7 linked regions of the Homo sapiens genome follow. The protein of the gene in region 3 purifies or fractionates together with the protein of the main gene of each other region. This does not show direct contact. Each region holds a gene or a part of one and is shown on either strand. Other genes may lie near its edges.

Region 1 (3,500 bases), on a different chromosome or scaffold from region 3:
GCCAACTAAGTTTGAGAATAAAATTTCTAGAGTTAGCCTGGATATGGACCTCTTTTATGCAATGTCCAACCAATTAAATACTTGCTCAATTTTCCTTCTTAAGGACTGAACTCATGGGTGTTGGGTGTTGTAAATTCACAGAGGGACTCTGCATTGATGTGAAAAGAAAACGGGAGACGTGCACTTAAGGGATTCCTTCAAGAAAGGGCACTCCCCACCCTTTTTCTGCCTAAGGGAATTTGGTGATGTTTTATTGAGCTGAAATGAGGCAATCTGTCTGCATCATGGGTAGGATTGAGAATGAGGATGTTAACTGTGACTGTGACAGAACATGAGGCAACCAGAAAAAAATATATGGTTTAGGCAGAGATGAGACTTTGACACTTCTACAAAAGAAACAAACAAAAACTTCAATTTGGTAAGTCATAGTGCTAAAAATAGTAATAACTATTACCTGAGACAATTTCTCTTCCCCACAATTTCTCTTCCCCACACATTCTTTCATGTATTTATTTCTCAACTTTACTAAACACATCAAGTCCTCACCCTCCAAAATGACTACAGGAACTGTAAACTAGGTATTATCAATTGTCTGAAACTACTCAGAAAGGTTTCATTTCACTCAAATATGACTGATTTATTTCAAAAATTTAATTTTATTGTGGTAAGAACCCTTAAAATGAGATCCACTCTCTTAACAGATTTTTAAGAGTACAATGTAGTATTGTTAATTATGGGCACAATGTTGTACAGCAGATCTCTAGAACTTATTCATCTTGTATAACTGAAATTTTATACCCACTGTGCACCAACTTCCCTCTCCCCCCTCCCCAACATGACCGATTTTTAACACACATTTGTATCAAGGTAACAAATGTTTGTAAGAGATTTTTTTCCCCATTAAATACTTTATGGTCATGAACTGATAAGATGGGCTTGGTTTGCTTGGCAGGAATCCATTATGAAGCCTTATCTAGTCATGAAGCCTGCAGAGACTAACCATTCTAGCCTCTGCAACATACTTTTCAGTAGCTATATCACACTAATTTATATTCATAGAGCAGCTTTACCTCCAAGGCACTTTTACACTTATCTAATTTGTCCATGCAACATTCCTGTGAGACAGACCAGGACAGTTATTATGAATTCAGTTTAACAGATGGAGAAGCCAAGGTACAGAATGTTCAAAAGATATGACAAATATCATAAAATCACTGACCCAGCCAAGGCCAGAAGTTGAATTTCCTGATTTCTAGTATGCCGCTCTAGTCAACTGATATTCTGCCTTTGACCTCATTAACATCACTTATCATCCCTAAGCGACCACATGGTAATTGTTGGTAAGCATCAGACACCAGACTTCCAGGCAGATTATTAACAGGAGAAGTCATAGCAATGAGTATCGCAAAGTCACAGCATTTTTAAAATTCTGACAATAACATAAACCTTGCTATTCAATAACTATCTCCCACTGTAAATTCTTTGTCACCATATTGATGTTTACTCAGAATCAGCACCTAATTCTGCAAGAGTCACAAAAGGAGAAAGGCTCTTGATGAGTGATTAAAAATTTTTACGTGGGGTGTAAGAGGGTATTTTCTAGCCCTACTTTTTGTTAACTTGTTTCTTATTAATAACATGATGCCATTTTGTATAAGCTAGTACATATCATTCTCTTAAGTTTGAGATAGGCAGTTTATTATTATTATTTTTAAAACTTTAGGGTACCATAATTTTGTTATGACTAATAAGGAATGCCTTTGTTTACTAATTCCTGCCAGAAAAGAAAGGCTACAGATCACCTATTCTGTAATCGAATATATTACTTTTGGTAAGTGGTCCATCATTTTCAACTGACTTATAAAATAACAATCCTATTCAACGAGTTCCTTCATCTAATTTTCTCAGTGTATGTTTGGCAAGTAGTTTATCAGCAAAGATAAACCAGGAATCACACTGCTCAAAGCCAGACAAAGTTTGATGAGTGCCCTGTGTTTTTCCGCCAGGTGGGCAACTGGTTATACACGCATGAAAAATCTTCCAGGCTCAATTTACTGTGACCATAACACAGAGCATGGTAGAGCTTTGGGGTTTCATGCTACTCTCTGGCTGCACATTAAAACAGATTCAAAGCCATTTACTAGGGTGAGTTTTTTACTAGGGCACATCTTTAGCTCATCCATAAGGCTGGAGGACTCTTGAGGCTAGTATTCTTATTTGGCTTCTCAGTTTTCAAAGAAGTCAATCCAACTTCAAACTGCATTCTGTTAAAGCATAAGTGTTGGTATGTACCTGGAACAAAATGAAAAGCTCTGCTCCTGGAACATGTCTATCAATGCTATCAAATATTTGACAAAGTTCATCTGAGAAGAAAAAAAGACATTTAAGAATAACTGACCAAGGAAAATACATTCCATTTGCCAGATTTTCTAAAATATGTATTGAGTTCAAGTCAGATCATCAGAAAACTGGGTTCTGTGAATCACAGCATATTGGGCCTGCTGCACCCCGCAGGATTATTCCTTTTATGAACGGTGCTTGTTGTGATACATGAACCTGTACTGGTAGTTGTTACAGGACACAGCTCTATGAAATTCACCCTTGCTCTTCCTGCAAGTTGTTGCTGGAGTGTTGTTAGATCTCATCCAGCGTCACTTTCACATGGTCTCATTCAGAAAAATTCCTCCCTGATTTCTGCAGCAAGAACTATTATGCTTTTCCTCAGCAGTAGTCTTATTTTTATCTTATTGTAAATTGCAAAACTACCTTTCATTTTTGGTAGACTACTAGAAGGCCTAAAGCCAGATTTACAGTCTAACCAGAGGCAAGTGGGCAGGTCATTATTTTAGTATCGTCCAGTCTCGACGTTAGCTTCATTTTTAACGAGCCTATCGATGAATTTCATTCTTTTTCCCCTTTTGTAATTTATAAGATTATCTTATATTTCACATACCTGTAAAAGTCTTTTTACAAACTTGCTGGAATATAGTTCACTATAAATACATAAATTAAAACTACAGTCCATTAAAAGGATGACTTTAAAATATTTCATTAGTTCCTTTCAAATAGCAAAAGGAATTTTAGACAGTAAAGAAATTCCCACTGCACCTTTAAAAAACAAGCTGAAAATGACCCTTGCTCCTCTCAGATCTCCTTTCTTAAACAAGCATGCTCAGGGCAACTACTGGCCTAACTTGATACTTCTTGGCTGTCCTGAAAGAGCATCTTTCTCCATCAATGCCCTTGAAATTATGCACAGATTAAACAATAAAATTAATCTTTCACATATAGCAAAGTGTTTTCTTCTCTGTGTCAGCAAAGACTAATTTAACAAATTCATTAACACAGGATTAACACTAAAGAAGTTCTTCTTGTTCCAGGTAGGATTGGGTTTCCATTTGTGAACAGGAATGACAGGCCTAGATAACTGCAGAGTGGAATTAAGTATTCAGCTATCTCTTCTAGTATTCGATGTCCTGTGAGCCCTTACTAAGTACATG
Region 2 (3,500 bases), on a different chromosome or scaffold from region 3:
ACTCCCTGACTACCACCTCCCATCTTTCCAGCTTATTTCCTCTAGTTCCTGGGCACCAAATATCTTTCAAGCTAATATAATGGACAATCCATTCATCCTACCAACTTTATTCCTCATTCCTCCTCACTAGCTTCAAAATCAATAATCAAAATTATTCTCATGTACACACTCAATTTCCTTGTTCCCTCTCTTATTTCACCTTAGCCACTAGGCTAAATTATAAATTTGGTTAAATCCAGTGCTCTGCCTGCTCTATGCCTTGACTATGTGGCTGACAGAACTACAGAAATAGATGCACACCACAGTGACTAGTCTAAACTTGTAACAGTAACCCTCAGCACTGCCCAGCACCCATCCAACACTGTCCTGGTGCATTTCCTCTAGTTCTAGAGGACTATTTCATATCTTCCGCTCTCTCCTCAAACATCTATCTAACAGCTCTTCCCACATAGCTACTGCCCACGCTTCTGTTTTCTCCAGTACAAAAGAAGGAACCAGAGGAGAATTCCCAGAAGCTCCCACTCAACACCTTCCCTGCTGTTACCACAGATGAATTATCCATACTCCCATCAAGATCAACCTCCAGAATGCCCCTCTAGAGAGCAGAGATCTTTACTTTGTTCCATGAAATATTACAGCCTCCCAAAATGGTGCTTGGTGAAGAGTAAGTGCTGAATACTTGTTGAATGAAGGAGTGAATTAACAAATAAATGTATTCTTTCACTATGTACTATATCTCTTTTCCACTTATTGAGGCCACCCCCCAGCCAATTATTCTTCTCCCTGCAATTTCACAAAAATTTCCCTCCGTACTCTAACACTCCCAGAGAGCTTACAAATACAGTTATATATACCATCTTAAGAAATGTATCCTGGCCAAGCACAGTGGCTCATGCTTGTAATCCCAACACTTTGGGAAGCTGAGGCAGGAGGATCGCTTGAGCTCAGGAGTTCAACACCAGTCTGGGTATATTGTGAGATCTCTGCTCTACAGGGCCAAAAAGAGAGAGAAAGAGAGAGATCTCACCTCTAGTAAAAATAAAAATCAGCCAGGTGTGGTGGTGCATGTTTGTAGTACCAACTACTTAGGAGGCTGAGGCAGAAGGATCACCTGAGCCCAGGAGTTTGAGGCTGCAGTGAGACATGACAGCGCCACTGCACTCTAGCCTGAGCAATAAAGCAAGACCTTATCTCCAAAAAATAAAATAACATAAAAAGACAAGTGTCCCTTCCCCAACTTCCCCTTCAACCACTGCCCCATTTCTTTGTTTTCGTTTACAGCAAATCTCAAAAGAACTGTCTATCTTCCTTCTCCCATTTTAATTTCTATTTAAATGACATCTTTACCACCACCACTAAACAGAAATTGCCCATGTTATTAAGGTCGTCCACATTACTAAATCTACAGAACTCATTACTTGACTCATCAGCTGCAAATCACATAGCTACTCACTCCTTTCTTCTTAAAACACTTCCCTTTCCTCCCAGGACATCACACTCACCCTGTTTTCCTCCTACCTCCTAGCAGCTCCTTTCAGTCTCCTTTGCTGATTCCTCCTCATTACCCAATTATTTCTTCATCATTACCCATTAAAGGAATGATTCCAGGATTCAGTCCTCCAGTTTCTTTCCTTCTCTATGTAAACTCCTGAAATAATCTAATCCAATTCATGACCTTAAATACTATCTATATCCTAAATTCATTATCTCTAGACTGGACCACTCATTGGCTTATTTATCAACCTGCCTACTCAGTATTTCTACTTAAGTGTCTAGTAGACATCTAAATACCAGTTACAGATGAACTCTCATGCCCCCTACCCAGTGACTTGGCTGCTCAGGTCACGAACAGTGGAAGGCATCCTTAACTCTTCTGTCTCTTACAAAAACACATCCAGCTACATCAGTAAATGTTACTACCTTAAAAATAGATCCAAAATCTGTCCACTTCTTACCACCTCCATTGCTGATCCAAAACCATTTCTCATGATTATTACAAAAACTTAAACACCTTTACCTCCCTTACAACCATTCTAAAAACAGCAGCCAGAGGAATACTAATAAGTCATGTCATCTCACTACTCTGCCCTTCACCCTCTATACTCCTTACACTCAGAGTAAGAAACAGCCCCTATAAGGGCCTACAAGGCCAGACACACTGTGGCCTTCCATGACTTTTCTGGACTCTATCCCCAACTACTTTTCCCCTCACCACTCCGTTCTATTCACACAAGTATGCTCTTGCTTTTGGTCTCTACATTTGTTTTCTTTACCCCTAATGCTCTTCCTCCACATTTCTGCACAGCTTCCTCCCTTACTGTAATCTTTAGTGTTTACTCAAATGTCACCCTATCAGTGAGCCCTCCCCTAAACACCCTTACTTTAAATTTCAACTCTTCCATGCACAGTTCTTATCCTCTTCCTAGCTCCTTTCTCCACAGAATATACCTTTTAATATACCATGTAATATATCCACCTATTTTGATCGCTGCATACTAACATGCTGCTCCACACTGGCATGTTAGTGTGCAATTAGAATACACGCTTTCTAAGACAGGGATTGCCTTATTCACTGCCATATCCCCAACACCAAAAGCAGTTTGGCACAGAGTTGGTACTTAATAAACATCTGATGAATTAATTAATGAACTGTTAAGACTCACTAGACATTTGACAAAAACCCCAAGTATAAAAGCAAAAAACCAAGACACACAAAAAACTGACTTCATAAAAAAACAGAGACAAATGAGGGAACAGAAAGAAACAAAAAAAGTCCTATTATCAAAATCTTCAGAAAAACTTAAAAAAAATGCATCAAGAACATGAAAGACTCTGGAACTTAAAAACATTACTACTGGAAAAAAACAATTCATTAGAAAGATTAGAAGATAAAGTAAAAATCACCAAGAACAGAGGGGAGCGAAAAAAACCAAAAAGGTTTTTTAAAATATGAAGGGAAAAAGACAAAGTTTTATGCCAGAAGCGCCAAAAAGTGACCATCAGAAATTTGTGGGGTTGGCTGGGACCTAGTAGGAAAATAAAGGCAGAAATTTCAAAGAACTATTACATGAAATTTTATTAGAGCTTAAAGGAGAATCAGAAAAGTCTTCAATCTGAAAGAGTCAATTTCAATTAAAAACATGGTAGAAGTGAGTCATAAAGCTTAAAATAAAGAAAACTCATAGTGTCAATCACTTTCAATTTTATATCAGGAAATAAACTGTACTTTAAACAAACTATTTTTTTTAATACATTTATGCACTGACTTTCAGTGACAGGCACAAATATTTTATTTCCAGATCAATAATGACAATAAAAAGAAACCAAATAACATAGCCCTAATATTATAATCCCAATTATGTTTAGTGATGGTTTTACATAAAAATTTCCGTTAAAAAATTATACATGAGATTCTCGATAAATAACAAAGGAAAAAAATTAAATTCTGTCTTTTTAAAGCAAAAAGATATTTTTACTTTTCATAAAAAGAATATATATAA
Region 3 (4,085 bases):
AAAAACACACACACGCACCTGAAATAGATGAGACAGAAAAAAAAAAGAAGAAAGCAAAAAGAAAGCCAGGCGAGGTCCCATCTGCTGCCCCTCCTCTGGGGGGACAAGGAACCCACGACCACCTCCCACCTTGCCTTCTTCAGAGGGCCCAGGACTGGGCTCAGCCCCGCTTCACCCTCCTTTGATTCCCCACATTCAACAGGAAGACTAAGTCCACAGCCGTCACTCACCGGACAGATGGTGCTGACAGTTCAGCACCGCTCAAACTCTGTAAGGAGACGTGACAACAGAATCTGTCATGGGATCCTGGAATAGAAAAGGGCAGTGAGGAGAAAACTCTGCAAATCTGACTCAAGCGCGGACTTTGGTTAATGTCAACAATGGTTATGTGATCGTGGAATTGGCTCATTAATTGTAACAAATAGGCCGGGCGCGGTGGCTCACGCCTGTAATCCCAGCACTTTGGGAGGCCGAGGCGGGCGGATCATGAGGTCAAGAGATCGAGACCATCCTGGCCAACATGGTGAAACCCCGTTTCTACTAAAACTACAAAAATTAGCCAAGCATGGTGGCGCACACCTGTAGTCCCAGCTACTCGGGAAGCTGAGGCAGGAGAATCGCTTGAACCCGGGAGGGGGAGGTCAGTGAGCCGAGATCGCGCCACTGCACTCCAGCCTGGCAACAGAGCGAGACTCCGTCTCAAAAAATAAAAATAAAAATAAAAATAAAAGAAAATAAATAAAGTAACAAATATACGACATCAGTTTAAGATCTTAATAACAGGGGAAACTGGGGGAACTCTATCTATTTTTTCAATTTTTCTAAATCTAAAACTGCTCTTTTTTAAATTTTCGAGACGGAGTCTCCCTCTTGTTGCCCAGGCTGGAGCAGTGGTGCGATCTCGGCTCACTGCAACCTCCACCTCCCGGGTTCAAGCAGTTCTCCTGTCTCAGCCTCCTGAGTAGGATTACAGACGCCCGCCACCACATCCGGCTAATTTTTGTATTTTTAGTAGAGACGAAGTTTCACCATGTTGGCCAGGCTGGTCTCGAACTCCTGACCTCAGGTGATTCGCCCGCCTAGCCTCTCAAAGTGCTGGGATTATAGGAGTGAGCCACCCCGCCCGGCCTAAAACTGCTTTTTTTTTAAAAAGCCTATTAAAAAAGAAAAAGTTGCGGAAGCCGGCTGCCTTTGGAAGCCCTTGGAGTATGCTGTTCAGGTGGTCTCTGCGCACAGGCCCTACCCAGGCCTCAGCTTGGCCTCCTGGACTTCCCAGCCTCCCCTCCACCTTTGCAATTCACCAGACTGGGGGCCAAAGCGGCTTCAAACGACCCTGGAGGGTGGTGCTTTCAAGGTCTTGGGACCACGGACTTGTCTGAAAATCCGAAGGCGTTGGATCTTCTCTTCCCCAGAAAAATGCACCCGCTTTCAGAGGTTCGTGTCCCACGCTTTTCTTTCTATCCCAACCTTGTAAGAAGCCGCCGCCGTGAGCGGAGCAGCACCTTCCTCCGCGGGTCGCGGGAGTCACCTACGGGAAGGGACTCTCCGTCTGGCACAGGCCCTGTCTGGCCTGGGGCGCGCATGCTCCGCCGCCGAATCTTCCAGAAAGCCGTGGACCCGAGGCCCCGGCAGACGCAGGCGGCCCAGCGCCTTGCTTTTGGCCCCTCGCCTCGCCCTGGAGCCCTCTCTCGCAAGGTAAGGGACTGCCGGGAACGCAGATCGCAAGCCGTCGGGGCTCTGTAGAACTCAGAGGCGCTCGGCGGAAAGCTCGCCAGGCGACCCAGACCCGAACCCGCGGGCTCCCCAAGACAACAGCGCCGGGCGGCCGGATGCACGTGCGTCCCGGGAAGGCGGGTTCAGCTGGCATCGCCTGGCCGGTTCCGTTCGCTCCTTAAACCACAAGACCCCCTTGGGGTCACGACGTTCCCGGGGCACCCCTGCACTCGCGCGCCAGCACTCCCGGAGGGGCCTGGGGAAGGCCACGCGCACGGAGAGCGGGAAACTCCTCTAGGTTTCCAGGTGGGAGATCCAGACCCTACTGAGACCCGGAAACCGCCGGCCACTCCGCCTCCGGAAGCGACACTTTGGGACAAAGCTGGGGACAAGTAAGCCCAGAAGATCCTCGGGAAGCCGAGAATTTCGCGCTCCGCTCTCCCACCCACGCTCCGCCTCCCGCTTGCATCCTACAGCTCAGCTGCGGTCTCGCCTGGGGCTCAGGGAAGTGAGGTCCCAGGAAAACCTCCATCCCCCGAACGCAACCTGGGCAGAGCCCCGCGTCCCTCCCCCAGCGGGCACCCACCTCGCGTGCCGCCCGCGCAACGACAGCGTTTACCGCCACCCCACACGGTCCGCCAAAAAGGGCGATTTGCAAACAGCCATTTCCCATCCACAATGCAGCGAACTCAATGCTGGGCACCGAAACGTGCATCTCCCCCGGATTCCCACCCCGCGTCCCTGCTCCACGCTCCAGGACTCGCCGCCAGTGGGGTCCACTCCGCCGGCGCGGGGGCTGGGGTGGGAGCCCGGGGCCACGTGCACGGCCAGCCCCCATCTTCTGGGCGGTCAAGACCGCAGGCGTGGGCGCCGGTGGGGCGGGGGTCTTGGGAGACCCTGTCTCGCCGCCTTTCGGTGCAGATGATGCAACTCTGGGCGGAGGCGCGGAGAGGGAAACCGGGACCCAGTTGAGATCCTCTGTCCAGAGAGGGGAGCGAGTCTCGGTGGGGCCGGATCTCACCTGGACGGATACATGGAAAAGAGGGGCGAGCGGCTGCCCCGACTGCGGCGAGGCGGAGACGGCGACCCCGGGGTGGCGGCCTCGCGGGGACCCACGGCGAGGGGAGCAGGCGGGCGGTGATTGGCGGAGAGGCGGGGGCGGAGGCCGGCGCCGGCCAATGTCTCGTGGCAGAGCACCCGCCCCCCCAGCCCCTCCTCCACCCCACCCAGCCCGGGCCCCTCCCCCCCACCCCTTCCCCACCCCGCCGCAGCCTGGGACCCTCCGGCCTGCCCGACCCCCGCCCTCCCCGGGACCCCGGCATGCCCCCACCCCAGTCCGCCCGCCCCATTCCCACGCCCTGTTGATTCAACCGCAGACCCGGGTCGCCGCCCCCTCCCCCGCCTTCCTCTTCGCCTGAGCCCGCCCGCCCCGGGTTCCAGCCACCCCCACCCGCGGACCCCGGTGGTGTCTTCTACCTGGTGTTCCGATGCTGTTTTACTTGGTTAACTTCTTGCCCTTCGGGAATTTAAGGAACCTTTACTGATGAGCTTGAAACGTGCGTCCTGGTGGGTGGGGGGCCCTGCGCGTCCTCGAGGACCGACCCCGAGGGCGTGTGTCGCGGGCCCGGGAGGGGGCGCCGCGCCGGGGCGGGACTCGATGGCCGCGCTCTGTGGCCGCCGGACGCCGTGCGCAGCGCCCCGCGTGACCGCGCCCAGAGCCGGGTCCGAACCCCGAGCCGAGGCGCAGAACAGTCGCCTTGCGCGGCTCCGGTGCGGCCCACGGCCAGGGGCTGCCGGGCGCTCTCGGGGACGGGGCCGACTCCGCGCAGGGTGGTAGCAGGGGCGCCCCGCGGGGCTCCTTCGCCAGGTCCCGGAGGCCGCGGGCGGGGCCGTTTCCCAAACATCGTGCTCTGGACTTTCAGAGGCTGAACCTGATCCCCCCGCCCTATGGCTAAATGGGGGATCCCAGGCCCCCGAGTCTCCCCCCGGACCTGCAGCGAAAGACACGGACGGTGCCCATCAGCTCTGGGCAGAGGAACGTGCTGCGCCTCCGCAGCGTCCCCGGCTCAGGTCAGAGCGATGCTCCGCAGCCTCCTCCGGCCCGCGCAGCTCCGCCGCGGTCTCTGCCACGTGGGGCTCACAGTAGGGGAGGGAGTGAGACGTGAATTAGAATTAAATGTCCACTGGCAGGAACTGACACGAAGAACAATAAAGCCGGCGATGTGGGGAGGGGACAGGGATGGAGTTACATCATGAAGGCTCTGGAAGGTGGCATTGGAGGCCGGGATCGCGCCACTGTCCTCCAGCCTGTGCGACTGAGCGAGACTGTCTCCAGAAAAAAAAAAAAAAAAAAAAAAAAAAAAAAAAATCCT
Region 4 (3,500 bases), on a different chromosome or scaffold from region 3:
ATGAGAAGGTGATCAGTATGGTCAGACACTTCAAATTTAATATTTGTGACAGCTAATAAAAATCCAAAAGACCTGGGTTATTTTCTTGACCTGTTCTTTGCCTGTGGTATTACCCCGAAGCTGGGATGGGGGTATTTGGGAGTGGGATGGACTAGCAGTCATGGAATGGAAAGATGATGGGGCATTTTACTTGTGATAAATATTTGTCATTCTTTAGGTTTTCTTTGTCACCTACTTCCATAAGAGTGTTTTATAATCACTGGTTTTTATACTCTGATGTTAGGCCATGAGACAGGCTGTTAACATTTTGACAAGAGATAACAACTTGACATTGACAGATCAAAGTCTTCAGCTTCTCAGATCCTTGGATTGTGCCCCAAGATGGTATTGGAGTGCTGCTGATGTGGCTGTGTTGCTTTAGTTCAGCCTGTTTATTCTTTGTTGTCCTAAGATTGCAAATGTTCAGTAGGTGATTGAGGGATTCAGTAGGTGATAGTGCCTGTGAGGTATGCCACCCTGGAGAGGGCTCTGTGATTTTGTGTTGAAATCGGAATTTGTTGTCATTGACATCTTTTTCTTTTAGGTGATGAAATTTATTGAGAAGGCCCAGAACATGTCCAAGTAAGTGATGTCAGTAACACCCATTTATTACTCTGTAGCTGACATATTTCTAGGCTTCATGGAGGATCTGGGATACCATCAGCCTCTGAAAGAATATAGATTGAGATGAAACCATTAGGAGTGAAAAAAAAATTGGCAAATCATTAAGATGCTTTAGAATATAGAGCTAAATTTAATATCATTTCATCCTCAATTACTTTGATCCCCAATTTACATGGCTTCTTAGGAGCTCTTTTGAGACTTTGTCCCAATTCAGTTGTCCACCTGCCTTCTCTTGGGAAACCATGCTTGTTGTCATTAAAGTATCTGAAATACCTTTCTAATTCTTATTTAAATGAATATAGTCTACATGGTTCAGAGAAAATTTTTTAATTTACAGAGTGTCAGAATAGGAAATATTTGTTCTTATGGCCATTACCCAGTTAGCTGTTGTTCAAGGTTTACTTTTTTTAAAAAAGATAATTTATTGTTTTATAAAAATTCAAACCATGCATGATATTTATAAGATGAAACCATCACCCCGATTCCCACTAGAAGTAACATCATCATTCAGCGACTAGCATTCCACATTTCTATATACACAGATAGAAGGATGAATGGATAAAAGTGCTTTTACAAAAATGGGGTACTAGAGGTAGCTTTTGTTTTGTTTTGAGACAGGGTCTTGCTCTGTCGCCCAGGCTGGAGTACAGTGTAGTGATCTCAGCTCACTGTAACTTCCACCTCCCTGGCTCAGGTGATCCTCCCACCTCAGCCTCCCAAGTAGCTGGGACTACAGGTGTGAGCCACCACACCTGGCTAATTTTTGTATTTTTGTATTTTTGGGATGGAGTCTCGCTCTATTGCCTAGGCTGGAGTGCAGTGGTGTGATCTTGGCTCACTGCAATCTTTGCATCCCGGGTTCAAGCGATTCTCCTGCCTCAGCCTCCTGAGTAGCTGGGATTACAGGTGGCCTGCTACCATGCCTGACTAATTTTTGTATTTTTAGTAGAGATGGGGTTTCACCATGTTGGCCAGACTGGTCTCAAACTCCTAACCTCAAGTGATCTGCCCGGCTTAACCTCCCAAAGTGCTGGAACTATAGGTGTGAGCCACTGAGCCTGGCCTGGAGGTATTTTTTTTTTTTTAATGACAGCTTTATTAAGATATAATTCATATACCATAAAGTTCACTCGTTTAAAGTGTATGGTTGTTTTAGTCTGTCCACAGAGTCGTGTGTTGATAATTACTATCTTCAGAATATTTTTGTCATCCTGAAAAGAAACCCCATACTCATTACCAATCACTCCTTATTTTCTGTTCCCTTTAGCCCCTAGTGACTACCCCATTTTCCATTCCCATTGGCAATATGATTTCTCCACAACCAGTTCCTCCATAACCTTGCCAACTTTTGTTATTCTTCTTGTTTTTGATTATAGCCATTCTAGTGGATATAGAGTGGTATCTCATTGTGGTTTTTACTTTTATTTTCTTAATAACTAATGATATTGAACATCTTTTTAATGTACTTATTGGCCATTGGTATGTATATATTTAGAGAAATGTCTATTAGAATTCTTTGCCAATTAAAAAAATTCTGATATAATTCATAATTATATCAAATTAATTCACAAAAAAGTTGATATAGTTCATAAAAACAGCTTTATTGAGATAATTCACATACCATACAATTCACCCATTTAAGGTATACAATTCAGTGGCTTTTAGTATATTCACAGAATTGTACAACTATCACCACAGTCAATTTTAGAATATTTTCATCATCTCAAGAAGTAACCTGATATTCTTCAGCTAGCACTTTCCCATTCCTCCCATTCTTCTTCCTCTGTTCCACACTCACCCCCGCCCTAAGCAACCAGATGTTTCCCAAGAGATTTACATTCTGGTTTTGTGTCTTTCATTTTAAATGCATTGTGTTTCTATAAAAGTTTCCCCTGTGATCATTTGCAGCAACTCATGGTCTGCTGTTCCTGCCCATTGGCGTGAATATTGGTCATTGAACAAAGTCTAGGGGATCATCATGTGCAGTTTAGGGCCAGTAGGAGGAAGTTAGATTTGGCAGTGTGCAGAGGTTACTCCAGTCTTGGATAACCAGATGTTTATTGTCTTATATGATGGAATATCCTTCAGCATAACACAAATGTAACACTTCTTTAATGATCTTTCTTGACATAGATATGTGTTGATTGACACACCTGGACAGATTGAGGTATTCACCTGGTCAGCTTCTGGGACAATTATCACTGAAGCCCTTGTGAGTATTCTAGGACTTGCTACTGAGAGTAGCTAGAGGGGCTAGACTGGATGAGCATTTATTTTTAATTGCCTTGGACTTTATATGGGAGGAAGTTGTAGAAGCTCTGCACACCCTGCCTAAAGTGGTTTTCCCTTGTTAAGGATGGTGGAAAAAGAGTTTGAGGACAGATCGTGAGCCCTCTGACCAAGGCTTTGATTTTTTTGTGGCTTTAGGCATCCTCATTTCCAACAGTTGTCATCTATGTAATGGACACATCGAGAAGTACCAACCCAGTGACCTTCATGTCCAACATGCTCTATGCCTGCAGGTAATTGATTGTTGGTGGGGAAAGTGTTCCATCAAGGTATAAGGCCTTTTTCTCTTCTTCTTCCTCTTTTTTTTTTTTTTTTGAATCTGGTTGCTTACCCCTGGATTTGTGCTCATTCAGATTTGCTGTTCAGTTGAGTGGCTGTGAGCTGGGGAAGGTCAGAGGAGAAAAGAGGCACATGTGCTGTTGGCATTCTCTCTCAATACCCTCTGATCTTCCTCCCTTGTTGTTACAAAAAGGTGATGTATGAATATGAACTGTCTGATAGTTGTTCCCAGTTGGATAAAATCCAAGTTTAAAGATAAAGTCCTCTGG
Region 5 (3,500 bases), on a different chromosome or scaffold from region 3:
TTGCCAATAATGTCAATTTTAAAAACATAAACCTTTTGAACTTCCAGTTTGACTTCTAGAAATTTGTCTTATAGCTTCATCATAAAAGTTGACCTCATAAATATAGATTAGTTCAACCCCAAGATATTCATCAATGGAGATTTGGTGAATAATGTTATATCTCTACAATAAAGTACTATATGTAAATTTTTAAAAGAATAATGAGGATTTATATATGCTAATACTTAAGGATATTCAGCATATATTAAGTAAAAGCAAGTTGCGGAACTGTAATATCCTTTTTGTGTGTTTAAAAAATCAAGTAAATTATATACATGCTTACATATGCATTACATAGATACATGGATATACAGAGGATGCATAAGCATTAACTGTAACTATATCTGGGAAATAGGATATAAGCTACTAGGCAGAGATTTTTAATTCATACTCTTTATTGTTTGAATTTTTTCTACAGTGGGTATATTGTTACTTTTCTAGTTAGGAAAAATAAAAACTGAGAAAAAAGTTTTAGCTGTGTGCAGTGGCTCATGCCTATAATCCCAGCATTTTGGGAGGTTGAGGGAGGAGAGTCACTTGACTCTAGGAGTTTAAGACCAGCCTGGGCACACAGTGAGACCCTGTCTCTACAAGAAAATAAATTTAGAAACATTGGCTGGGCCGTGGTGTATGGGAGACCAGCCTGGGCAACACAGTGAGAGCCTGTCTCTGTAAAAAATAAATAAGTAAAAATTAGCTGGTCACCATGGTGCACGCCTGTGGTCCCAGCTGCTCGGGAGGCTGAGGTGAGAAGATTGCTTGAGCCCAGGAGAACAAGGCTGTAGTGAACCATGATCATGCCATCGCGCTCTATAGCCATCACACTCTATAGAGCCTGGGGTCAGAGCGAGACCCTGTCTCAAAGTTTAAACTTCTTCCAGGATGGGTATATTAGTTACTGATAGCTGCATAACAAAATACCCCCTAAGCTTAACAACTTGTAAAACAACAACTATTTATTTCACAGTTTCTCAGGAAGATAAACTTGGGAGCAGCCTAGCTAGGTGGTTCTGGCTCAGGGTCTCTCATGAGATAACCTGTTGGCTGGGCTATAGTTATCTCAAGATTCTACTGAGTTTGGAGGATCTGCCTGAAAGCTCAGTCGTGGTTGTTGGCAGATCTTAGTTTCTCTTTGGCTGTTGGCCAGAGAGTTAAGTTCCTCCTTGCATGGGCTTCTTCATAGGGCTGTTCACGGCTTGGCAGGTTAGCTTCTTTCAGACTGGGGTATCTGAGAGAAAGAGAGCCAGAGCTCAAGACTGGGCTAACATGGAAGTGACATATCATCACCTTTGCCGTATGCTACTGTTCATACAGACCAGTCCTGGTACATTGTGAGGGAGGACTACAAGGGTGTGAATAACAGGAGGTGGGGATCATTGGGGGCCATGTTGGAGGCAGGCTACCATAATGGGTCTATAACAGTGTATACCTTTTGTAATAAGTTGGGATTATGGAAAAGAAAGTTAATTGCTTCAATATTTAAATGGGGGCTATTTTTAAAAATTAGTTATCTCTTTACAAATACCTGTAAATACTTGCTTTTTCAGGTCCAGCCCAGAATCAAATGCAGGTTCCATCTGGATATGGATTGCATCATCAAAACTATATTGCTCCCTCAGGACATTACTCTCAAGGACCTGGGAAAATGACCTCATTGCCATTGGATACCCAGTGTGGTGATTACTACTCTGCTCTCTATACAGTACCAACACAAAATGTGACTCCTAACACAGTGAACCAGCAACCAGGAGCACAGCAGTTGTACAGCAGGGGTCCTCCTGCCCCTCATATTGTGGGATCCACTCTAGGATCTTTCCAAGGTGCTGCATCGTCAGCATCCCATTTGCATACGAGTGCCTCCCAACCATACTCCTCTTTTGTGAATCACTACAATAGTCCAGCCATGTACTCTGCCAGCTCTTCTGTTGCGTCTCAGGGATTTCCCTCTACTTGTGGTCATTATGCTATGTCAACTGTTTCTAATGCCGCGTATCCTAGTGTTTCATATCCCTCTCTGCCTGCTGGTGATACATATGGGCAAATGTTTACCTCACAGAATGCTCCGACTGTTAGGCCAGTTAAAGATAATTCATTCTCTGGTCAAAATACAGCTATCAGCCATCCATCGCCACTTCCACCTCTACCATCACAACAGCACCACCAGCAGCAAAGTCTTTCAGGATACAGTACTCTAACGTGGTCATCTCCAGGCCTTCCATCGACTCAAGACAATCTCATCCGAAACCACACAGGATCCCTGGCTGTAGCGAACAACAACCCAACCATTACTGGTAGGTTGAATGAAAAGTTCACCAAAACATGTTTGAAAATCAGTGCATTCCCAATTAAGTTATTATTTACATGAAGGTTAGAGGTGATATTGCCTAATAGAAAAACTGGAAGTTTGCTAATTTATTGTGGCTTTTTGTAGCACCTCTTTGAACCCTTTCTTCTCATCCATTCCCAATTAGCCACCCAACCATCTGCCTTGTCTAGCTTGGTTCCTTGCCATGATCAGTCAACATTTATTGATATATTTTATACATCTGCAATAGTTGTCTTTAATGTGAATTAGATACAGGGCAAAATGGAAGGGTCTGTTTTGAGGATATGTTGGCCACTATTTTCTCTTTTATACTAGTTCAACCTTGGGACAGTTGTTTTTTTAGCCAGAGCCCCACTTACTTAGAAAAAAGGATGGTTTGCAGCAGTGCACTGGTTTCCCCAAGTTAGCCCCTATTAGTGACTTTTGCAGAAGACATCTTTCCTGCACGTAAACAGTGTTTCTCATTTTCAGATTAGTAAGTTAGGCTGAAAGATGGGGAAGGGAAAGGAAGATGCATGAAGAATACCCTGGTATTCAGCCCTTCTGACCTTCCTAAACCAAGGTGTTGTTAAATTTTTTCATTTAAAAATTATGTATGTAAGACGTGGCTTGCCCTTTTTTTTTTTTTTTGACACAGGGTCTCACTTTATCACCCAGGCTGGGCATGATCTCAGCTCACGGCAGCCTTGACCTCCTGGGCTCAAGCGATCCTCCCATCTCAGCCCCACAAGTAGCTGGGACTACCAGGCATACGCCACCACACCCAGCTAATTTTGTAGAGATGGGGTTTTGCCATGTTGCCCAAGCTGGTCTCGAACACGCGAGCTACTGTGCCTGGCCCAATGTGGCTTTTTAAGTGCAGTGTTTCCTTTCCCTAGGATATATTCATTTTAATTCAATTTGTGACTTGAATTTAACAGAATCTGCTTTTGAACCGAATGAAAATGCATGTAAAAAATGGGAATTGGTAAAGCTGTGGTAACTTTTGGAATGATGCCTTTAGATTGTGTATCATTATCTGGATAGCCATGTGTCAAAGATGCTGTGGAAAGATATCCTTCTCTGGACAATGAGATTATTTAAAATTAGAACTTTAATATTAGACCCAAGCTGTACATTTGAGATCATCTACTCT
Region 6 (3,500 bases), on a different chromosome or scaffold from region 3:
CTGAGATCATGCCACTGCACTCCAGCTGGGATGACAGAGCAAGACTCTGTCTCAAATAAATAAATATATACATACATACATACATACATTGCCATTGAGAGAGTCTGAGGAAGCAGAAAACAAAACAGATTCCTGCATAAGATTTTGTTTTTTCACCTGTACTGGCACGTCCTCAGAATGCCTATACCACAGCCCTCTTTCTAAAAAGTTCCTTCTATACCAATTGCTGGTGGGCTCTGTGTAGCCTTGCCATCCTGGCATGAATAGCTGGGACCTGGAGCCAGCCTTCCAACAGACAACCAATTTACAGTCTGGCCAGTGGCACAGGGAGTTCGCCAAGCACAAATGTCATGTCCAATAGGCTGCCTCAGCCTCGTTCTGTGATACCTTGAACTTGACTTAGGGAGAAGGCAGAAAACAGATGGAAACAAAAAAGAACCAAGAGAAAAAGAAAAGCAGAATAATGGGCCGGGCATGGTGGCTCACGCCTGTAATCCTAGCACACTGGGAGGCCAAGGCAGGAAGACTGCTTGAGGTCAGGAGTTCAGGAGACTCCCGTCTCTATAAAAGATAAAAAAAAAATCAGAGCGGGAGTGGTGGCTCACGCCTGTACTCCCAGCACTTTGGGAGGCCGAGGCAGGTGGATCATCTGAGGTCAGGAGTTTGAGACCAGCCTAGCCAACATGGTGAAATGCCATCTCTACTAAAAATACAAAAATCAGCCAGGTATGGTGGCACGCACCTGTAATCCCAGCTACTCAGGAGGCTGAGGCAGGAGAATTGCTTGAACCTGGTAGGCGGAGGTTGCAGTGAGCCGAGACGGTGCCACTGCATTCCAGCCTGGGTGACAGAGCAAGAGTCCGTCTCAAAAAAAAAAAAAAAATTAGCCAGGTGTAGTGGTGTCTTCTTGTAGTGGGAGGCTGAGATGGGAGGATTGCCTGAGTCCAGGAGGTTGAAGATGCAGTGAACTATGACTGCATCACTGTACCCCAGCTTGAGTAACAAAGAGAGATCCTGTCTCAAAAAAAAAAAAAAAGAAAGAAAGAAAAGAAAAAGAAAGGAAAGCAGAAATAGGGAAAATCAGCTAAGCCAGAATCATGGGTTCTATGCATGCCTACTGAAGGGAACAAAGAGTCTGATCTGACCACGCACTCAGATCCCCTCAATTTCCTTATTTCCTTCAAATCTTCACAATAAACCCCCCAATTTAATGTAGAAGAAAGTTTTTTTTCTTCTCTTCATTCACTGACAGAAATTGAGCCAACAAGAAAAATAATATCTACTATTGATGAAGGTGCAGAAACACATATTCTTCTCATTCACTGGTAAGCATGTAAACTGGCATTCTTTGCTAACACTATACAACAGATGTCCTTCATGGTGCCTGTCCAAACTGCTACAGTTCTCGGTGGCCTGTGGCCTCCTTGGCTACAGCAGCGACGCAAAAGCCAATCCCCTGGTAGGCTGATGACCAAAAGTCTTGTGAGAAAGGAGACACTGGGGCAATTAGATTCACCTCTCAGAAATGTGTAATCAGGACACAGAGAGACTGAACTGGAAAGGTGTTAAGAGCTAAGCTAGGGACTGAGGTTGCCATTTGAGGCCATGTACAAAGTGAGCAGGCAGAGGAGGCTTGTCTATAGTGAAGTGGAGGAAGCAGAAGAGTGGAACAGGGCAGAAATCTGAAGCTCCTAAGAGAAAATAATAAACAACTTCCTTAATTCTGGGCCACCACCATTTTCTTGAGAGACAGCCACATTTCATTGGCCTGGGGAGCGCTGTATCATTACAATAAATCCTTCTTCACTCGAGCTAGTGTCTGTTCCTTGGAACCAAAAGGGCCTAATCTAGAATAGAAATTGGCAATAAAAACAAAGTTGAAATGTGGAGGGTTGGTGAGCACATGGCTATACATGGACTAGTAGGATGATGTTAGGTAAAGGTAATCCTTGGAAAGTTATGTACTATGTGTACAAATTACAAGCAAACTGTTACATTGCTTACCCAACCCAGTCTTTTCAAGAGTCCACATAAAAGACAAGATGAACAGATTTGTGTCTCTACCAGCAAGATCACCAGACCGGCAATAGACTCCTGACAAGTGCAGTCAAAATAGGTTAAAACAACAGGTGAGCTGGATACAATGGATCACACCTGTAACCCCAGCACTTTGGGAGGCTGAGGCAGAAGGATCACTTGAAGCCAGGATTCAAGACCAGCCTAGGCAATGTAGGGAGACCCTGTCTCTACAAAACATTTAAAATTTAGCCAGGCATGATGGCATGTGCTTGTAGTCCCAACTACTTGGGAGACTGAGGAAAGAGGATCACTTGAGCCCGGGAGGTCCAGGCTGCAGTGAGCCATGATCGAACCACTACACTCCAGCCTGGGCAACAGAGCAAGACCCTGAGGGAAAAAACAAAACAAACAAAACAAAACAAGTAAAAGAGTCACCTAGAGGTACACTCTTAACCGGTTAGTAATCCAGTCATAACATACAAGAATGGTCAGCAGTGGCCATATTGGGCATTATACAAAAATGAGTAAGTGAAGTAGGCTGTAGAGATGGAAGACTGGATATTCAAAAAGAAACAGAAAATAAGGAAACCAGGCAGCCTTTAAGTGACAAACAGAACACTGCCTCTGGCTTAGAAATTCTGGTTCCCTGAAACTTGACTATGCTTTCTTCCTTTGTCTTTGGATGTCTGGAAACTGCAACCTATTTTTTACTTGAGTGAGTTTTTGTTCTTTTTAGTCCAAGGTAAAGACTGGAACCAGACCGGGTGCAGTGGTTCATGCCTGTAATCTCAACACTTTGGGAGGCCAAGGCAGGTGGATCACCTGAGGCCAGGAGTTCCGAGACCAGCCTGGCCAGCATGGCGAAACCCTGTCTCTACTAAAAATACAAAAATCAGCAGGGTGTGAAGGCATGGGCCTGTAATCCCAGCTACTCCAGAGGCTGAGGCAGAAGAATCACTTGAACCCAGGAGTTGGAGGACGCAATGAACTGAGACTGTGCCACTGCACTCCAGCCTGGGCAACACAGCAAGACTCTGTCTCAAAAAAAAAAAAAAAAAAATAAAGACTGGAACCAACAGTAAATAGTGAAAGTATAAAAATAAAAGCGTGTGATGGGGTGGAGGAAATAACATACTTTCAATCCAACAATTCTATATAATGATAAGTTTGCACAAAAATGTAAGTATTAGCACATACAAAGTTTATTTATAAATAGAGAAAAGTTACTATCAGCCTCAATATTCAAAGGTCTGTTAACTAAACCACAATGCATTCATACAGGCAATATTGTGCAGCTATTAGAAGCCACAGAGAAGTACAGGTATCCCTTTCTACCTGAACTCAAGCTCCCTGACTCAGAAACCAAGTAGATTCAGATAGCAAGGGATACCTGTATTCAATGACATGGAAAGATGTTCATGATATATTAAGTGAAAAAAAGGGTTACAAAACAACATATACTTTATTTTTATTAAAAGTAG
Region 7 (2,542 bases), on a different chromosome or scaffold from region 3:
AGATATTTAACAATAAGAATAGCAGGACATTAATCAGAATGGACTCTAACCCTGTCAAGATGGAGACCCTGATAAAATCTCATGGAGGGCTTCTTGTTAGTGAGCGGTGTCCTCCCAAATGTTGCTTCCTTCCCTGCTCTGTCAAAAAGAGATTCCAGCAGTAACTGTATTCTAGGATCTCTGATCTCTGACCTCTAAGCAAGGGCCACATGTTCTACCCTACTCAGCCTTAGAGGGGATTGGAGACTTTGTACTAGAAAAGCTGTTTTCAAGGCTCTTTGGGAAACAGAAAATGTGTCTCTGATGAAACTCCTCCATGCCCTTGATTGTTGGAGAACAGCCCTACTAGATACTGTCAAATCTTTTGTTTTCTGTTCTCTGTAGGATAAACCTTTAATGTCTTCATGTTGTGTACAAGATAAATCCAAACCCTAACTTGGTACCAGGCCCTTCAGTATCTAACCCAATCAATTCATCTAGTTTTTTCAAAGCATCAGAGGATATTGGTACAAGAAGCAGTCTAAGATCATACAGTCCAGCAGCTTATTTTACAGGCAAGGAAACAAAGATCCAGAAAGTTGAGCTGATTGACTCAAGTGTCACACAGGAACGTGTTCGCAGCTTCACTCTTGGATTTGCATCAGAAACAGTGAGGGGAGGTAAAAGGTGCTTGGATCTAGATTTGAGATCTGCTTCCACCAATTAGTTAACCTTTAAACTTCCATTTTTTAACACATAAAATGAGATTAATAATTAATGATTTTCGGCCTGGTGCAATGGCTGACGCCTGCAATTCCAGTACTTTGGGAGGCCGAGGTGGGCCACTTGAGGTCAGGAGTTCAAGACCAGCCTGGCCAACATGGTGAAACCCTGTCTCTCCTAAAAAAAAAAAAAATTATCCGAGTGTGGTGGTGTACACCTATAATCCCAGTTACTTGGGTGGCTAAGGCACGAGAATCGCTTGAACCCAAGTGATGGAGGTTGCAGTGAGCCGAGGTTGCAGCAAGCCAAGATCGCACCACTGCACTCCAGCCTGGGTGATGCAGCGAGACTCTGTCTCAAAAAAGAACCAAAACAACAACAAAAAATTAATGATTATCATTTATTGATTACCTGTCCCCCCAAGCATTCCTGATATATATATTACCTTTATTATATGCTACTATGACCATATGTTGTAATTACTGCAGGGTTAAGTCAACATCATAACCTAACTATTTTTAACTGTACTAAATGTATACGGTGTATTTCTGTGTCTTCATTTTTATAAACATTTATGGAATAACTTGTTTTGCAAGCATTGTGTGGAGAAATGTCAGGTCCCACCAAAGTTTAGGCCTATTTTCTGTCTTTGTATAGGAGTTTACAGTTAGACCAAAAGTCAGGCAGTCTCACCAAGTTAAAAAAAAAAAAAAGATGTCTAAATAATGACTTGAAATAATTCATGTAACGCAGATTTTTGTTAGTCTTTCCGGAAGATGCCTGCTAGTAAGTTTGGATGCACAAGAGGGCACACTCAGCATGTGAAATGGGTTTGTTTTTCACAGTAATGAAATGTGTATTACGTTAAGACTCTCTTGTTTAAAAAATTGTCTTAAAATAAATCTCTCCTGATTTATTTAGGGATTTTTGTTTAAAGTTGCTTGGCCCCCAGACACTCTGGTTTAGGCTATAACCCCGATGCCAGAGGATGAGTGGATTTAGGTCAGGGCTTGTCTGTTCTATCACCCTTCATTCTGTGTCTCCCAACTCTGCTGCTACTAGTGCAGCATTGCAATATGGGAGGAAGGAAGTGAAGCTAATGTGTATTAGCTTAGTCTCCCAGCCTCACAACACATGTAACTCTGTGACCTTAGAAAAGTTACTCATCCTCCCTAAATCTCAATTTCCTCAATTTTAAAATGTGGACAACACTCTACATAGCTCTTAGGTTTGTTGCGAGAACATGGGGAAAAAAATCCCTAAGCTAATGCCTTCGTTCATACTAAGTACCCAATAAACGTTAGCACCTACTATGAACTATTATCTTTTATTAGACATCTCTACTACATTCCAAGTGCTTAGAAGTGCTTTATACATGTTCCTTCAAATTAATGTCTGTGACAAACCTTTAAGACAGGTGTTATATCCAATTTTTATTCATTAAAAAAATGAATTAATGCACACAAACCACCTAGTAGAGTATCTGTCTCATGGTAAGCACACAGTAGATGCATCTATTATTATTTCAGATAAGGAAATAGGCACTGAGGATGAGTAACTTTTATAAGGCCACATAGGCAGTATGTGGAAGGGCTAAGATTCATACCCAAGTTTGTTGGTCTCTGAGACCTGAGTTCTTATTTCTACATGTACACACTCTTTTAAGGAATTACGAGTCTCCCAGGGCAGAACATTTTAAGATGGATGTTTGTATCTAAACAACACTTTAGTAAAGTGACAAAGGAAGATATCCATCACTCAGACCACAGCTGAGATTTTTTTTTCCCCATGGCTCTCATGTAAGAGAGGAGAAAGCAGCTTAGGTATTGATTTTGCTGGT

Evidence for each region.
Region 1: the proteins of CBS (region 3) and PDLIM5 fractionate together in Homo sapiens (co-fractionation; one large-scale study listed by BioGRID). This does not show direct contact.
Region 2: the proteins of CBS (region 3) and NMD3 fractionate together in Homo sapiens (co-fractionation; one large-scale study listed by BioGRID). This does not show direct contact.
Region 4: the proteins of CBS (region 3) and GPN1 fractionate together in Homo sapiens (co-fractionation; one large-scale study listed by BioGRID). This does not show direct contact.
Region 5: the proteins of CBS (region 3) and SEC24B fractionate together in Homo sapiens (co-fractionation; one large-scale study listed by BioGRID). This does not show direct contact.
Region 6: the proteins of CBS (region 3) and IREB2 fractionate together in Homo sapiens (co-fractionation; one large-scale study listed by BioGRID). This does not show direct contact.
Region 7: the proteins of CBS (region 3) and CTH fractionate together in Homo sapiens (co-fractionation; one large-scale study listed by BioGRID). This does not show direct contact.

Annotation. Positions count from the first base shown.
Region 1 is NC_000004.12:94,650,942-94,654,441, reverse strand, and holds part of PDLIM5 (PDZ and LIM domain protein 5), read right to left. Parts: intron 1-3,500. UniProt on the Homo sapiens protein: May play an important role in the heart development by scaffolding PKC to the Z-disk region. May play a role in the regulation of cardiomyocyte expansion. Isoforms lacking the LIM domains may negatively modulate the scaffolding activity of isoform 1.
Region 2 is NC_000003.12:161,227,811-161,231,310, reverse strand, and holds part of NMD3 (60S ribosomal export protein NMD3), read right to left. Parts: intron 1-3,500. UniProt on the Homo sapiens protein: Acts as an adapter for the XPO1/CRM1-mediated export of the 60S ribosomal subunit.
Region 3 is NC_000021.9:43,073,036-43,077,120, forward strand, and holds the start of CBS (cystathionine beta-synthase), read right to left. Parts: upstream 2,801-4,085; 5' UTR 2,735-2,800; exon of another isoform or gene 1,468-2,734; intron 307-1,467; 5' UTR 231-306; intron 1-230. UniProt on the Homo sapiens protein: Hydro-lyase catalyzing the first step of the transsulfuration pathway, where the hydroxyl group of L-serine is displaced by L-homocysteine in a beta-replacement reaction to form L-cystathionine, the precursor of L-cysteine.
Region 4 is NC_000002.12:27,632,050-27,635,549, forward strand, and holds part of GPN1 (GPN-loop GTPase 1), read left to right. Parts: intron 1-583; coding exon 584-621; intron 622-2,796; coding exon 2,797-2,875; intron 2,876-3,090; coding exon 3,091-3,185; intron 3,186-3,500. UniProt on the Homo sapiens protein: Small GTPase required for proper nuclear import of RNA polymerase II (RNAPII). May act at an RNAP assembly step prior to nuclear import.
Region 5 is NC_000004.12:109,461,315-109,464,814, forward strand, and holds part of SEC24B (protein transport protein Sec24B), read left to right. Parts: intron 1-1,586; coding exon 1,587-2,330; intron 2,331-3,500. UniProt on the Homo sapiens protein: Component of the coat protein complex II (COPII) which promotes the formation of transport vesicles from the endoplasmic reticulum (ER).
Region 6 is NC_000015.10:78,444,716-78,448,215, reverse strand, and holds part of IREB2 (iron-responsive element-binding protein 2), read right to left. Parts: intron 1-3,500. UniProt on the Homo sapiens protein: RNA-binding protein that binds to iron-responsive elements (IRES), which are stem-loop structures found in the 5'-UTR of ferritin, and delta aminolevulinic acid synthase mRNAs, and in the 3'-UTR of transferrin receptor mRNA.
Region 7 is NC_000001.11:70,435,268-70,437,809, forward strand, and holds part of CTH (cystathionine gamma-lyase), read left to right. Parts: intron 1-2,542. UniProt on the Homo sapiens protein: Catalyzes the last step in the trans-sulfuration pathway from L-methionine to L-cysteine in a pyridoxal-5'-phosphate (PLP)-dependent manner, which consists on cleaving the L,L-cystathionine molecule into L-cysteine, ammonia and 2-oxobutanoate.